2 linked regions of the Homo sapiens genome follow. The protein of the gene in region 1 purifies or fractionates together with the protein of each later gene. This does not show direct contact. Each region holds a gene or a part of one and is shown in the gene's direction. Other genes may lie near its edges.

What was found. Proteins that work in one complex are often made in the same cells at the same time.
Region 2: the proteins of PEDS1-UBE2V1 (region 1) and CHORDC1 fractionate together in Homo sapiens (co-fractionation; 2 studies listed by BioGRID). This does not show direct contact.

Annotation. Positions count from the first base shown.
Region 1 is NC_000020.11:50,143,723-50,150,748, reverse strand, and holds part of PEDS1-UBE2V1 (TMEM189-UBE2V1 fusion protein), read left to right. Parts: intron 1-6,855; coding exon of another isoform or gene 6,856-7,020; intron 7,021-7,026.
Region 2 is NC_000011.10:90,220,026-90,227,092, reverse strand, and holds the start of CHORDC1 (cysteine and histidine-rich domain-containing protein 1), read left to right. Parts: upstream 1-4,043; 5' UTR 4,044-4,138; coding exon 4,139-4,202; intron 4,203-4,393; exon of another isoform or gene 4,394-4,564; intron 4,565-7,067. UniProt on the Homo sapiens protein: Regulates centrosome duplication, probably by inhibiting the kinase activity of ROCK2. Proposed to act as co-chaperone for HSP90. May play a role in the regulation of NOD1 via a HSP90 chaperone complex. In vitro, has intrinsic chaperone activity.

The DNA of each region.
Region 1 (7,026 bases):
TGCATTCCAGCCTGGATGACAGAGCGAGACTCTGTCTCAAAAAAAAAGAAAAAGAAAAAAACGGAGCTGGCATTTTAGTAAATAGCCGGGCCATAAACTTGACAAATAACTGTCTCACGTGCCCAGTGGTGGCAAGCGCTGTGGAGCAAATACATAGCAGGAGAGGGGGATCTGAAATGTTGGGGACAGGAATGACATTTTAGGGAGGGGGCAGTGAAGGCTTCCCTGAGCAGGTGACATTCGAAGTGAGGCCTGAAGGGAGGAAGGACTGGAGGGAGGGAGCCTTGAGGATATTTGAAGAAGGGTTGGTCCAGACCAGGGAAACAACAAATGCAGAGACCCTGAGGTGGGAGCTTGCCAGGCATGTTTAGGGAATATGGAGGACACATGTAGGCTGGAGGGAAGAGTAGAAGAAGTTCCTGGGTTCTAGGAGCAGAATGTTTGAGATTACTGGGGCTGGAGGTGGTTTGGCACTGTGACAGTTGACAGCCATAATCATGGCAATCAACATAGCCGAGTGATTGAGCCTCACTGTGCTGGCATTTTCCTCACCTGCTCTCCGTGCATCCCCACTACAACCGTGTGAGCTGTACCTTGATATTAACTGCATTCACAGAGGAGGAGGCTGCAACCCCTCCCAACCCCCACCCCAGGCATGCTCTTCCTAAAGCTCACCCTGATCGGGGTTAGGCCCGCATCTGCCCTCACCTGATGGGAAGGCCAGCAGGACAGGGACTGAACCTATTTGGTTTGATTAAAGTGCTTGGCCCCTCATGAGCACCCAGTCCACTTTTGTTGGAACATTTCCTGAGGCTTAGAAAATGGGAGAGGCTGCCTGAGGTCATACGGCGGGGCACCGGGCAGCAGTAGGGCTAGGCCTGGAACCCGGGACTGGGCCGGGTGGGGGTGCGCTAGGTTCTGTGTTCTTACTCTTCACTATGGAAGTCAGCCAGCCAGGGGTGAGTGTGTGGGAGGTGGGGGCGAGTATTCCGGATCATCAGAACAGCATGTGTGCAGGGCAGGTGGCAGAGAATGGGCCTCTGTGTGTAGGGAGCTGTGAGTAGTTGGACCAGAGCAGCATGGGGCTGAGGGAATGGTGACAGGTGCAGCAGGGAGGCGGCCACAGCCTGATTTCGCAGGCCCCAAGTGTCTGGCCCAGAGGTTGAGCCCTGGTCCTGCAGGACCCAGGAGCCGTTCTGTCCTGTTCTGGGCTGAGTTTCCCAGCAGCAGCCCACCTCATGCCAGATGTCAGGGTTTGTGAAGGGCCTGGCCAGCTTGGCAGGCCAGAGGGTGAGGCGGGTGTCCAGCTTCCCAGGAGGTCCCAGCTGAAATCTGGCCATGTGTGTGCTACTTCTCAGGTGCCCCAGGCTTCATGGGTGCAGCCTCACGGTCCTTGATCCACCTGTACCCCACCCAGGCCAACTGTGGGTGCCCCCTGCCCTGGGGATTACAGAGGCTCTTGGCACAGGGGGAAGGGAAAGGTGGAGGGTGTCAGGAGTACTGGGTGAGAGTCCTGGCCTGTACTCCCAAAGCTGAACCCAGGGGTTCAGTCCCCCAGATGGGCTTTCTGTTTTTTGCTCCTTTTGTCTCTGTTTCTCATCTTTGTTTCTTTCGGTTTTTTTGTTTGTTTGTTTTTGAGACAAGGTTTTGCTCTGTTACCTAGGCTGGAGTGTGATGGAGCGATTGCAGCTCACTGCAACCCAAAACTTCTGAGCTCAAATGATCCTCCCGCCTCAGCCTCCAAAGTGCCGAGATTGCAGGTGTGAGCCACCACGCCCAGCTAATTTTTATTTTTATTTTTGTAGAGGCAGGATCTAGTTATGTTGCCCAGGCTGGTCTCCAACTCCTGACCTCAAGTGATCCTCCTACCTTTGCCTCCTAAAGTGCTGGGATTACAGGCATGAGCCGCGGCACTCAGCCTGTTTCTCATCTTCCCATGGCTCTGATTCCTTATTTGTCTCTCATCTCTTATTTGTCCCTCTGTCCATCTCTCATCCCCACCTTCTCTCTACCTCTTGTCCCCCATCTCCCTGAGGCTGAGGGTCTGCTGGAGGCCAGGGGTCCTCAGAAGTCCAGCTTATTTGGGGCTTGTCTCTGCCTGGAACCAGAAGAGTTGGGCCCACCAAGCCTTTGACTGCAGCCTGTCCCCTGGAAAGCAGGATGACAAAGGCATGACCCCAGGCCTCCCCTGCTCTTCCTAGCTCCCCATACCTACCACACGAGGCCAGCCCCTTCCTCAGGCCAATAAGTGGCTACTGCTTTTGGCTCAGATCTTCAAACCCTGCCAAGCCAGGGGCTGGCTCTGATAGCAGGACCTCAGCACTACAGCCAGAAGACAGCCCGGGCCTCCTGTGTCCTGAGCAGCCACCCTCCCTGTCCCCACCTCAGTCTGCTCATCTGTTAAGTGATACAGTTTAGGCCAGTTGACCCCACAGGCCCTGCCAGGCTGATGATCCATGCTGTGACTTTGGTGACCCTCAAGTGACTTTGGACAAGTGCCTTGACCTCTCCAGGCCCAGCTTCTCTCTCTGAAGGATGGGACAGAGGGTCCCTAGCTCCAGGAGGTGGTGAGGGGTGCTGAGATCATCTTAGCCCTGTATCTGGCATGTTCCAGTTGCTCAGTGAAAGCTACTTAAGTTGTGTATGTTTTCTCCCCCTGGAGACGGAGTCTTGCTCTGTCGCCCAGGCTGGAGTACAGTGGCACGATCTCGGCTCACTGCAACCTCTGCCTCCTGGGTTCACGTGATTCTCCTGCCTCAGCCTCCCGAGTAGCTAGGAGATTACAGGTGCACCCTCCCGAGTAGCTAGGAGATTACAGGTGCACACCACCACACCTGGCTAATTTTTGTATTCTTAGAGACGGGGTTTCACCATGTTCATGTTAGCCAGGCTGATCTCGAACTCTTGACCTCGTGATCTGCCCACCTCGGCCTCCCAAAATGCTGGGATTACAGGCATGAGCCACCACACCCGGCCATTGTGTATGCATTCTTTATGGATGAGAATTAAGGTATTTGGTCTGCAGAAGGATCCAGCTTCCAGAGGCCAAAGAGAGATGGAGTTTAGATGGAAAAATATTCAGATTTGGAGGACGTTCTCCATGGCGTGGGGAGAGAGCTGGATCATCTTTGGTTTCAGGACTGCCCCGAACGTCCAGGCTAACATGTCTCATTGATGTGTCTGGGATCCAAACCCAGCTCTGAACCTCAGTTTCCTTGTCTAGGAAATGAGATCACTCAGTTCCTTCCTTGACGGGCTGATACTTGAATGAGAGACTGTGCCTCAGACTCAAAAACTCAGATGACTGCAGGGGCCCAGCCAGGGCTGCCACCAAATCTGGCCACCCAGTGTGAGACCCCAGGGAAGGGAGAGGACCAGGGTGAACCTGGAGCTCATATCCCATTGGATGGGGGCAGCTATTACTTATTGTTTAGGCCTAGGGTGGCCAGAGCCCTGTGTTGTTGAGGGAAGCAGGAAACTAGGAATTTTACGTGATTTTCAAATTTAGCTCACTTTTTAAAACTGAGGGCAAAACATGTCAGAGGGAGTCAGTTTGCAACCTCTCCGATATGGGCCACACCCCAGCGCATGACAGGCTTCAGTGTGTGTCAGCCATTGTTAGGGTAACTGTTATTTGATCATGTTGCAGTTGGCTCTGCCCACTTCCTGTCCCTGCATGCTGTGGGGCAGGCAGGCAGGTCGATCGGGAAGGTTCACTTGTTCTTTCCTTCTCACCGCCTCTCCGTGTCCTCCCACCCCACCCACTCGGGGTTTTCTGCTTCTGAGCCCTGGGCCTTGGCTACAAACAAGAATCAGAAAGGGGAAGGCCTTGCTGGGCCTGATCATGGTGATCCCCAGGCTGGGGCGGCTGCTGGGGCAGTGGGGGTGCTGCGTGGCTCAAGAGAAACAGCCCTCGCCTGAGAATTGGGGAACCAGGAGATCTAGGCCCCTGTGACCTCTGCTATGTGACCTCTGTTGAGGTCCTTCTCCTTCCTGGGCTTCACGGTCTTCTTCTGCACAAAAGGAGCCAAGGGCATGTAACCCTGGTGTGTTCCGTTCCCCTTCTGAGCCTTGGTCTTTTCAAGGGGCAGGGGAGGGCAGCTGTCCTGGTTCTGGGTCAGGGTAGGTCAGGAGCAGCTTGCTGTTGTGTGACCTGGAGAAGGCCTTCTCTCTCCCTGAGCCTCAGTTTCCCTATCATGACAAATGGGGAACCCAGTACTTCCTTCCCAAGGTATGTCGGTGAGCGGCACCCAGAGACAAAGCCATGGAGTTGTCCGTTAGGATTGTGGTTGGGAATTTGCTCATTCTGCAAGCATTTACTGAGTGTCAGGGCCCTGGTGAGTGAGCCAGACATGGTTCTGGGCCTCCCGACTTCACATTTAGGTAGGGAAAGACAAACGTAGACAAGGCCACAGGCATGAGCAATGGGCCTCGTGTGGGGGGAGTGTGGGGTCAGAGGAGGCATCATGGATGGCTTCCTGGAGATGGAGGTTTCCAGGGTGAGATCTGCAGGAACAGTGTCAGGTGCACAGGGAGTGAAGAGAACAGCATGCACAGAGTCCTAAAAAGAAGAGAGGGTGGACACAGGAGGAGCCCTTCTCACCTGCTCTGGCCCTGACCCCTTCACAGGGACCTGCCTGGCCCCGCTGCTTAAGTGGGGGCCTGGGCTCCTGACCCAGAATGTCGTCAAGGTGATAGGGTGATGGGGAATAGAGGGAGGGACCAGGGGCAGCAGGAACAGGATAGAGCGGGGCGAGAGCGGGATCTTAGGAGCCAGACCTCTGGCCATGGAATTCTGGTCTCTGCTGACTAGTTGGGTGGCTTTGGGCTACTTCCTTGACCACTCTGATGGTCAGTTTTCTCATCTGCAAAAGGACATCACTTCAGCAGGCGCCTGATATGTAGTAACTGCTCAGTATATTTTAAACACCCATGATAAAATTGTTGTCATTAAAGGTCTTCTGTGCCTTATGGAGCAGCTGCCTGGGGCATACCCTAGTCACATGTTCTATGTCACCCACATGGTGTTTTTATTTCCTTTAATTTTTTTTTTTCTTGAGATGGAGTTTTACTCTTGTCACCCAGGCTGGAGTGCAATGGCGTGATCTCAGCTCACTGTAACCTCCGCCTTCTGGGTTCAAGCGATTCTCCTGCCTCTCCCGAGTAGCTGGGACTACAGGCGCCTGCCACCACACCTGGCTAGTTTTTGTATTTTTAGTAGAGATGGGGTTTCGCCACGTTGGCCTGGCTGGTCTCAAACTCCTGACCTCAGGTGATCTGCCTGCCTCGGCCTCCCAAGGTGCTGGGATTACAGGTGTGAAACACTGCACCCGGCCTTATTTCCTTTAATGTTTAAAATTTTTTGTTTTGTTTTGTTTATTAATAGAGACAGGGTTTTGCTATGTTGCCCAAGCTGGTCTTGAACTCCTGGGCTCAAGCAATCCTCTCGCCTCAGCTTCCCAGGGTGCTTGGATTACAGGAGTAAGCCACTGGGCCTAACCCCTTTTATTTATTTTATTTTTATTTTTATTTTAGTTTTTATTTTTTGAGATGGAGTCTCACTCTGCCGCCCAGGCTGGAGTGCAGTGGTGCCATCTCAGCTCCCTGCAATCTCCACCTCCCAGATTCAAGTGATTCTCTTGCCTCAGCCTCCCGAATAGCTGGGATTACAGGTACCCGCCACATGCCTGGCTAATTTTTGTATTTTTAGTAGAGATGGGGTTTCACCATGTTGGCCAGGCTGGTCTCGAACTCCTAGTCTCAAATGATCCTCCTGCCTCGGCCTCCCAAAGTGCTGGGATTACAGGTGTGAGCCACCATGCATGGCCCCCTTTTATTTTTTTATTTTAATTTACAATTAAAAGAAAACAATGTAATATGCTAGTACTTTAAAAGGAAATAAGGGAAAAGCCGGTCTTAACTATATAGATTTTTTTTTAACATAAATGGCTGCTATTTGGCACTTTGCTTTTTGCACTTACCTAGATGTCCTGGACATCTCTCCACGTCCACTTATAGACAACTGCCCAGGTGTTTTCCTGGCTGCAGAGATGATGTGGACTGAATTCATTTGGCCAATCCCCAGGCAATGGCCACTTAGGTTATTTCCCAAGTTTTGACACCACAAACAAAGCTGCAGCGAGTGAATCAGCTTGTCTGGGCTCGTGTGTCTGTGAAAACTATGTGGCAACACTGAAACAGATTGCACACCCAAAGCCTGACTTCTGGCTCCTCTTGGGAATCAGAAGCTCTGCCTCCCTGGCCCACACGCCATACTTTTAGAAGCCCCACTGCCCCAGAGCCCTATTTGTCCATGAATTCCTGACTCATTGTCTGGAGCCTGCTTGAGGGAGGCTGGGCAGGGTGTGAGCCACCAGGATTAAAGGTTGTTTGTAGCCTCTGCCTCCAAATAGTTACCTGCAAAAGGGGACAAGTGAAGCCACAAAGATTCTACTTTAAAAAAAGAAAAAGAAGCTCATTAAAGTTCCCTTAGGTGTCTCCAGAGAGAGCCCAGAGGGGCCCAGGAGACCAGAGTTCTGGTCCTGTCTGTCAAAGAATTGGTCTGTCAGAGAATTGGGCCACTCTCTGAAGGGCCCCATCCTTGGTTTAATGCATCCAGCCCTGACTGTTTGACCTTGGTGAGGGCCTCAGTGACGTCATCTGTGAAATGGGTACAGACTCCTTTGCGGGAGTCTGTAAGCTCAGCTTGTGGTTGGCAATATAGATGCATTAAACAAAGTTGAAAAGCTCCTGGCCAGGTGCGGTGGCTCACACCTGTAATCCCAGCACTTTGGGAGGCCAAGGTGGGCGGATCACAAGGTCAGGAGTTCAAGACCAGCCTGGCCAATATGGTGAAACCCCATCTCTACTAAAAAATATAAAAATTAGCCGGGCATGGTGGCGGGTGCCTATAATCCCAGCTACTCGGGAGGCTGAGGCAGGAGAATCGATTGAACCTGGGAGGTGGAGGTTGCAGTGAGCCGAGATGGCACCACTGCACTCCAGCCTGGGTGATAGAGTGAGACT
Region 2 (7,067 bases), on another chromosome or scaffold:
GTACAAGCTCTCATTTTGCCTTCTGCCATGAGTTAAAGCTTCCTGAGCCCTTCCTGTATAGCCTGCAGAAATGTGAGCCAATTAAACCCTCTTTTCTTATAAATTATCCAGTCTTGGGTATTTCTTCATAGCAATGCAAGAATGTCCTAATACATCTGGTATCCCTTATTTCTGAGCATTGGTTTACCTCGATGATTCTGTGCTTTCTTTAATGTTATACTACCTTCCATTGCAGGACTTCTGTTTAGACTAACACCTATGCCTGCACTCCAACTCAAGATTAGGCAAATTCCCATCTCCACTAACTTAGCATAACGTACTTCCCATTCATAGCATTTATGGCAATTATCAGTGATTGAATTCATAATTGGGAATATTTGATTCACATCCGTCTTTCTTATAAAATTCAAATACAACGAAGACAGGTAAAATGTCACTTCAGTTCACCACTGTATCCTGCATCTAATGTACCAACACACATTAACTACTTAATACATGCTGAAATAAATTAAAACCTATATATATATTTTTTTTTTAAATCGTGGACAAAATAAAAAAGCAAGCACATACTTTATTTAGAAAATAGAATAAAATAAAAGCAAGGAAGCAGACACAACTGCATATAAAAGGGAAAACAAAAGTGAAATAACCAAATAGGACTAAACATCTAAGTTGACCATTTTCATTGCTAAACTTTTGTGAAATTATCATTCAGTGCTTACACTAGACTATATGTTTTACATGCATTGTTTAACTTAATCTTCACAGCACTCTGTTATCAATGTTTTACAGATAAGAAAACTCAGGCTTATTGACGTTAATTGACTTATAAAACCATTAATAAGTTCTGGGCCACTTTGGCACCTGAACTTTCAAGCATTAATCAGAAATAAAAAGGTTAAGCTTCTCTGCAAAATAAAAAGATTCTCGGATTTGAGTTAAAAAAAGAAAAACAAGATGCAATCTATCTGCTGCTTACAGCAGATATGCCCAAAACAAGATGACACAGGTTAAATATAAATGGATAGGGTGAGGTTTATTAGGCAAAAACAAAGAGAAACATAGCAAAAGTTGAAGCATTAATATCAAAGTAGGTTTCAAGACAAAAATACAAAATGATACAAAGAAGGTCATTTTATATTAAAAACATAAACTATGTAAATACGAAAGACATGCACCTTTATAGGATGAATAATATATGTTCAAAATACAGAAACCACAAACTGCTCAACACACAATCATAATGGATGAAATTTTCATCTTTCGAATAAAGTAGAACAAATAAAAATAGTCATTGTTAAGTTGGTTTTTTGTCCTCTTCATAATGTTAACTATATCAAAAATGAGTATGTATTTACATTTTCAAAACATATCTAAGAGTATAAAGTAAAATATTAACTTTACTCCTTTAAACTCATCCTTGTCTTTATACATATCCGTTATTATAAGAGATTAATGGTCTTTTCAAATATTATTTTATACACGTACATGGATACATACATATCTATAATCGTTTTTAAGATAATGGAACTTAATTATTATTTATTTATATTATTAATTAATTTTTTTTTGAGATAGAGTTTCGCTCTTGTTACCCAGGCTGGAATGCAATGGCATGATCTCAGCTCATTGCAACCTCTGCCTCCCCGGTTCAAGTGATTCTCCTGCCTCAGCCTCCCGAGTAGCTGGGGTTACGGGCATGCGCCACCATACGCAGCTAATTTTTTTGTATTTTTAGTAGAGACAGGGTTTCGTCATGTTGGTCAAGCTGGTCTCAAACTTCTGACCTCAGGTGATTCACCTACTTTGGCCTCCTAAAGTACTGGGATTACAGCCGTAAGCCACAGCACCCAGCCCAAGATAATGGAGCTTAATTAAACTTAACTGAATTGTTTTAAGAAATATTTTTAAATGCAGAAAAAGAGAGTAGTATGATAAACATTCATTTTGCACCAAGAATAATTGACAATTGTTTTAAGTTAACATATTTATTTAAGTCTTTTGTTAATAACAAGATAGTCAAAGTTAAAGCATATTTTGATATGTATGGGGGTAAAGAAGGAAGGGAAGATATATTCAAAGTGTATATAAAATATACATGTAAATTCTAGAAAGTTTTTCAAACAGTGGGTGTTAGTCAGCACTGAAGTGTTGGAATGGAAATGTAAGTGGAGGTGGGATTGAAACAGGCTGTTGCTGTAACACTGTTTTTCTTAATCATAAGAATGATTTAATTTTATAGTTTCTCAAAATACCCAAGGGAGGAACATAAACTCCTATATATAACACGACTCTTTTTAAACATATATATCTATAAATGCTTGGGGTGTCAGGAAACACTGAAAATAAATTTACCAAAGAGTTATTTTAGCCATTCAGTACTTATTGCTGGGTGGTGGAATTATTGTTGACTTTGTTCTTAGTATACTTCTGCGTTTTCCAAATTATCTACCATAAGCAATTATATTCTGATTGTAAAATGCTACAGATGAAAAACTAGAAATAAACATTAAAATTATTTAAAAGGTTTAGTTCACTAACAATCCTGGTAATGTTGCATTGATACTAGGATACTCAAGACAACAGATTTGGTCACAACTAAAACTTTTTAGAGCTCTCCACTTACTCATTTCCAATTGTGTATGATCAATTTCTACGGTCTATTACATTCACAGCCGGTGCAATTGTAAATTGGTACCACCTTTCGGAAAGCAATTGGCTCTATATATCTTTAAAATCTTAAAGTTATTTAAAAAGCCTTATGCCCTTTACCCCAGAACTGTCGCTTTCCAAAAATTTTCCTAAAGGGGGAAATTCGAAATAAGAAAAACAATACACAGGTTGAGCACTGTAACTTATATATAATAAAGTTGGGGAAATTAGAGAAAGGTTAAATTACAGTGCATTTATTCAACAGAATACTCCGTCATTTGTAACAATGACTATGAAACAAAATAGAAAAATACTCACGTTAGGTTAAATGAAGAAAACATACCTATCTATGGTGGATCACAATATGAAAATTTAATACTTCTAGGTAGAAGAAGAGAAAGAGAATATGAAAAACTAAAAAGTCTTTAGGGGTAGGAGGACGTGAGCAGATCTCTAAATAACCTTGAGATCAATGGAAACAGTGTATAGATTTTTAGGTTCACTTATAAGCTGCTGATCTTATTTTAAGATCCTTCAGTATATGTTATCAAAAAGTGTTTGCTTTTCTTGCAAACGCCCATGTTTGGGAAATATGCAAGTTGAAGCCAATGCATTACTGTACTTTTTATAATGCACCTGAAGTTTTACTAGCTGTTCCAAGAGTGGTGTACTGAGTATTGATAAATCGTTTAAGTGGAGGCTCACATGAAATATTAACTATTACCCCAGGGCTTTAGAGCAACTGTGATCAATTCTGGCACAGCATCAGATCCATAATTTTCTTTGCTACTCTGATTTCTACGTTTTTTGTATTTTCAAAGTAATGTGACCGCAACTGTTAAGTTATTAAAATTGCTCCTGAGATGAGGGCACTCGAGACACAAACACACGGAGAGGTTCGTCCGCTATTCCTCTCATTTACTAAGCTCACACGTCTACCCTGAGGATTTGGAAACACTGTATGATTCTGCACTTACTGTGCACTTATCCCTTAGTGCTAAGGGGTAAACAGATACCCACCGGGCTGTCTAAGGCGCAGCCTCAAGGCAAGGAAGAAGGGTGCTGGGTCGCAGGGGATGAGAGGGCGGGGCGGCCACTTTGCTGCAGGAGATACCCAAAGCCAGTTAGCACTGAGGAAGTCAGAAGAGAATTGTCAGTCTCTCGGACACCTTCATTTTCTGCCCCGGAAATTTCTCCTCCGCTGTTGTCTGGGCTCCACTTCCGACCCCCAGTTGCTACCAGCTGTAGTCCGACCTATCGTGGCCCGGGCTAGTGCCAGCCTCCCGCCGCTACCTCCGCCTCGTCCCTTCTCCTCTGCGCCTGCGCGACCGGAAAATTCGCGAAGGTTCCTGAAACGCAACGGATCGTTTCCGGAAGCCGGTAGCCGCCTCAGTCGTCAGACCGGTGCTAGCGACACGGGAGTGGCAAACGCATCCTCTTGCCGTTCCCGGTGTTTGGGCCTTGCCTGTGACGGTGGGAAAAGAAAATGGCCTTGCTGTGCTACAACCGGGGCTGCGGTCAGCGCTTCGATCCTGAGACCAATTCCGACGGTAAGAGGAACGCGCCGCCAGCCCTCCCTCCCCTCCACCTCATCAGCAGGGGAGGCCCTTTGGGCCGGAGGGTGTCCGCGGATCTCCTGCAGCCGTCCTCGCGCGGCCCCAGGTCCATGCCCCTCCTGGGCCTCCCTTGGCTGCCCGCGCAGCCCGCCGGCCGCCCCTCTGTTGCGCCGCGTTCCCTTGGCGAGCGCCCGGCCCCGGCGCCTGACTGTCCTCTGCCACTGCGGAGAGAGACGCTCCCATGGATCCACGTGTTTCCCCCGTCGTCCCCGCACTCCTTTTAAGTCGCCTGGAATTTAGAACGAACACGTTTCTCCTCTGGCCCTCCAGTCTCTGGGGAAGCAAAAATTAACGAGGTACTGGTGAGCTTGCTTTGTAGTTCCCGAAGTAGTGATGGCTGTGATTGCCTGCGCGAGAGGGAGAGGTGGCCGGGATGAGCAGCGGGTTGTCCTAGCATGTAAGCTCTGCCTTGTAGAAGTTTGTGTTCAGTCGATCCGCTGTTACAAACCTCTTACAAGTGTTCTTGGTAAGGGACATTACTCTGTATCTTCACGCTGTTTTGATAGGTTCATCCTGGTGGTACGTTAGTTATCTTTTTATTACTAGCGGCATTTGTTGCTTGTTCTTCTTGTGGCCTCCACGTTTTACTACCATGCCTACTCCCGTATAAAATGAGTGAATGTCATCTACAGCACCTAGATGTCGAGTTAAGGATCCAAAGCGAAAATGACTATTAGGTGAAGGACGGGAAATGATCAGTGAATTGAAATTTTGATTGACAAAGAAGTGAGATGATTCCTTGCGTATCGTGAGAAGTGACAACACGTTTTCAGATTGAACTAGCATTTAGTTTATATTTTCTGCATGCCAGCCATTATTGCTTTATCTTATTTAATCTTCATAACCACCCTGGGACGCATGTAATGTTAATTAGACCCATTTGATAGAGAAGCTCAGTTCAATGAGGTTGTATTAATAACATCCTTCATTATTGTGGAGGAGATGAAAACTGATGCCTTTTGAACTCTTCACCTCTGAGATGTTTGAAATACTTATTTTTGGCACACAGGTAAATTGATAGCGTTATTTAAAATAAGACCATTGATACAGAGTTTTAAGGAAAAGGAAAATCCAACCTATGCAATACTCAAGTTACCGCCACTGACATTTTTATGATGCAAATATGATGCTACTCATGAGGAAAATTGTGAGATTTCAGTCGATGACAAAATCGAGAAACGATTTTAAAGCCCTTTGGTGTTGGCAGCCTATGTAAAACATTAATTGCACTTATGTCTGCAGATATTCTACTTTAATATAGAATACAGGGGAAAGACTGACGCTTTGCTTATGAGACAATAAAGTTCAGGGGCGATAGTCATTTGTTGGAAGTCTGTATCCATGTGTGAATTGGTGCAGTGCCTAGGAAACAGAAAGCGACCAGGAAAACCGTCTCAAAACTTGGGTGGTCAGCAGTACTAGTTACAGCAGAGAAATTCCAATAAGTATATTTACTTTAGCGAAATGACGGTTTTTTTAGAGACTTAGAATACATTTTTCAAGTAAACTGATTGAGTGAATGGAAGGAGAAGAAAATGGAGATACGGAGTAGGAGACAAGAACTAAATAGAAAGGTTGGTTAGGAGGTTTTTTAGGAAGAGGTTTGACCTTGTACAGTTGACAGAAATAAGTTAAAAGAGGTAAATACACAAGCAAGTTCCATTTTGCGTAAGCCAGATGTTGGATCTGTCATCTTTAAATATTTCTTAATCTACACTAAATGCTTTTTTTCTCGGTGCTGTGGCATAATTACCGTGCTCGTTGACTTATAGTCTCATGATTTTTTTTTCCCCCTAGAGACAGAAATTAGACTCCCTTTTAAGCTGATAGAACGTTTTAACTTGTAACTGAAGTTAAAGGGTGTTTAAGGGAGACACAGTTGGTAACTTACATATGTTAAACACTTATTCTAGAATAAACACAGCTTCACAAACGGTATTTTTTTTAATCGACGTATACGAGGAAAACTGAAGGAACTACTAGCGAGTAGCTCAGTGAGAAATTTAGCCAGGGTCAGACCCAATGTTAGAAGCCCTGGACACTTAACCACTGCTACTGTCTTGTAGCTTCTCACCCATAAAATATTAATTTTGCCAAAACTCTTAAAACTGATAAAGAAAGGATGGATATTAAAGAAAGAATGAAGAATGTCCATTTGCTTGTTACTTCTTGTTTTTGAAAGCAGTGGCTTTCTAATTGTGTTCATGTTAGTTGTATGGTTCAGATCTGACTCATTCCTGCTGCCATGCTGCCAAAATTGACTTATTGTGACATTTTATGCCTCTGACTCTGTTATACATTGCGTTTATGTTTCTGACTACTTTAAATTTGGTGTTTGAAAATACTGGATCTATTCTCTACTTCCATTCCCCTCTCAACTTCATGTCCTTCTGCATACCCATTTCTACTTCCAACCTCCTTTTTCAGCCCTTAATTCCACAACTACCCTTAATTAATAACATCTTTCTGATCCCACGGATTTACTTACTGTATCAGGAAGATACCTAACACTTTCTACATTAGCTAGTATCTATGCAGCACATGGTTACTAAGGAAGCAATACTGGCTAGTAACGGGGTAGGGAGATTTCTGTGAGCACCAGTAGTAAATTTTGAGGCAACACCAGGAATCAGGTGATAGAGCAAGGGTGTTCAATCTTTTGGCTTCCCTGTGCGACATTGGAAGAAGAGGAATTATCTGGGCCACATTGGAAGAAGAATAATTGGGTCACATATGAAATACACTAACACTAATGATAGCTGATGAGCTTAAAAGAAAACAAAAACAAAATTCATAATG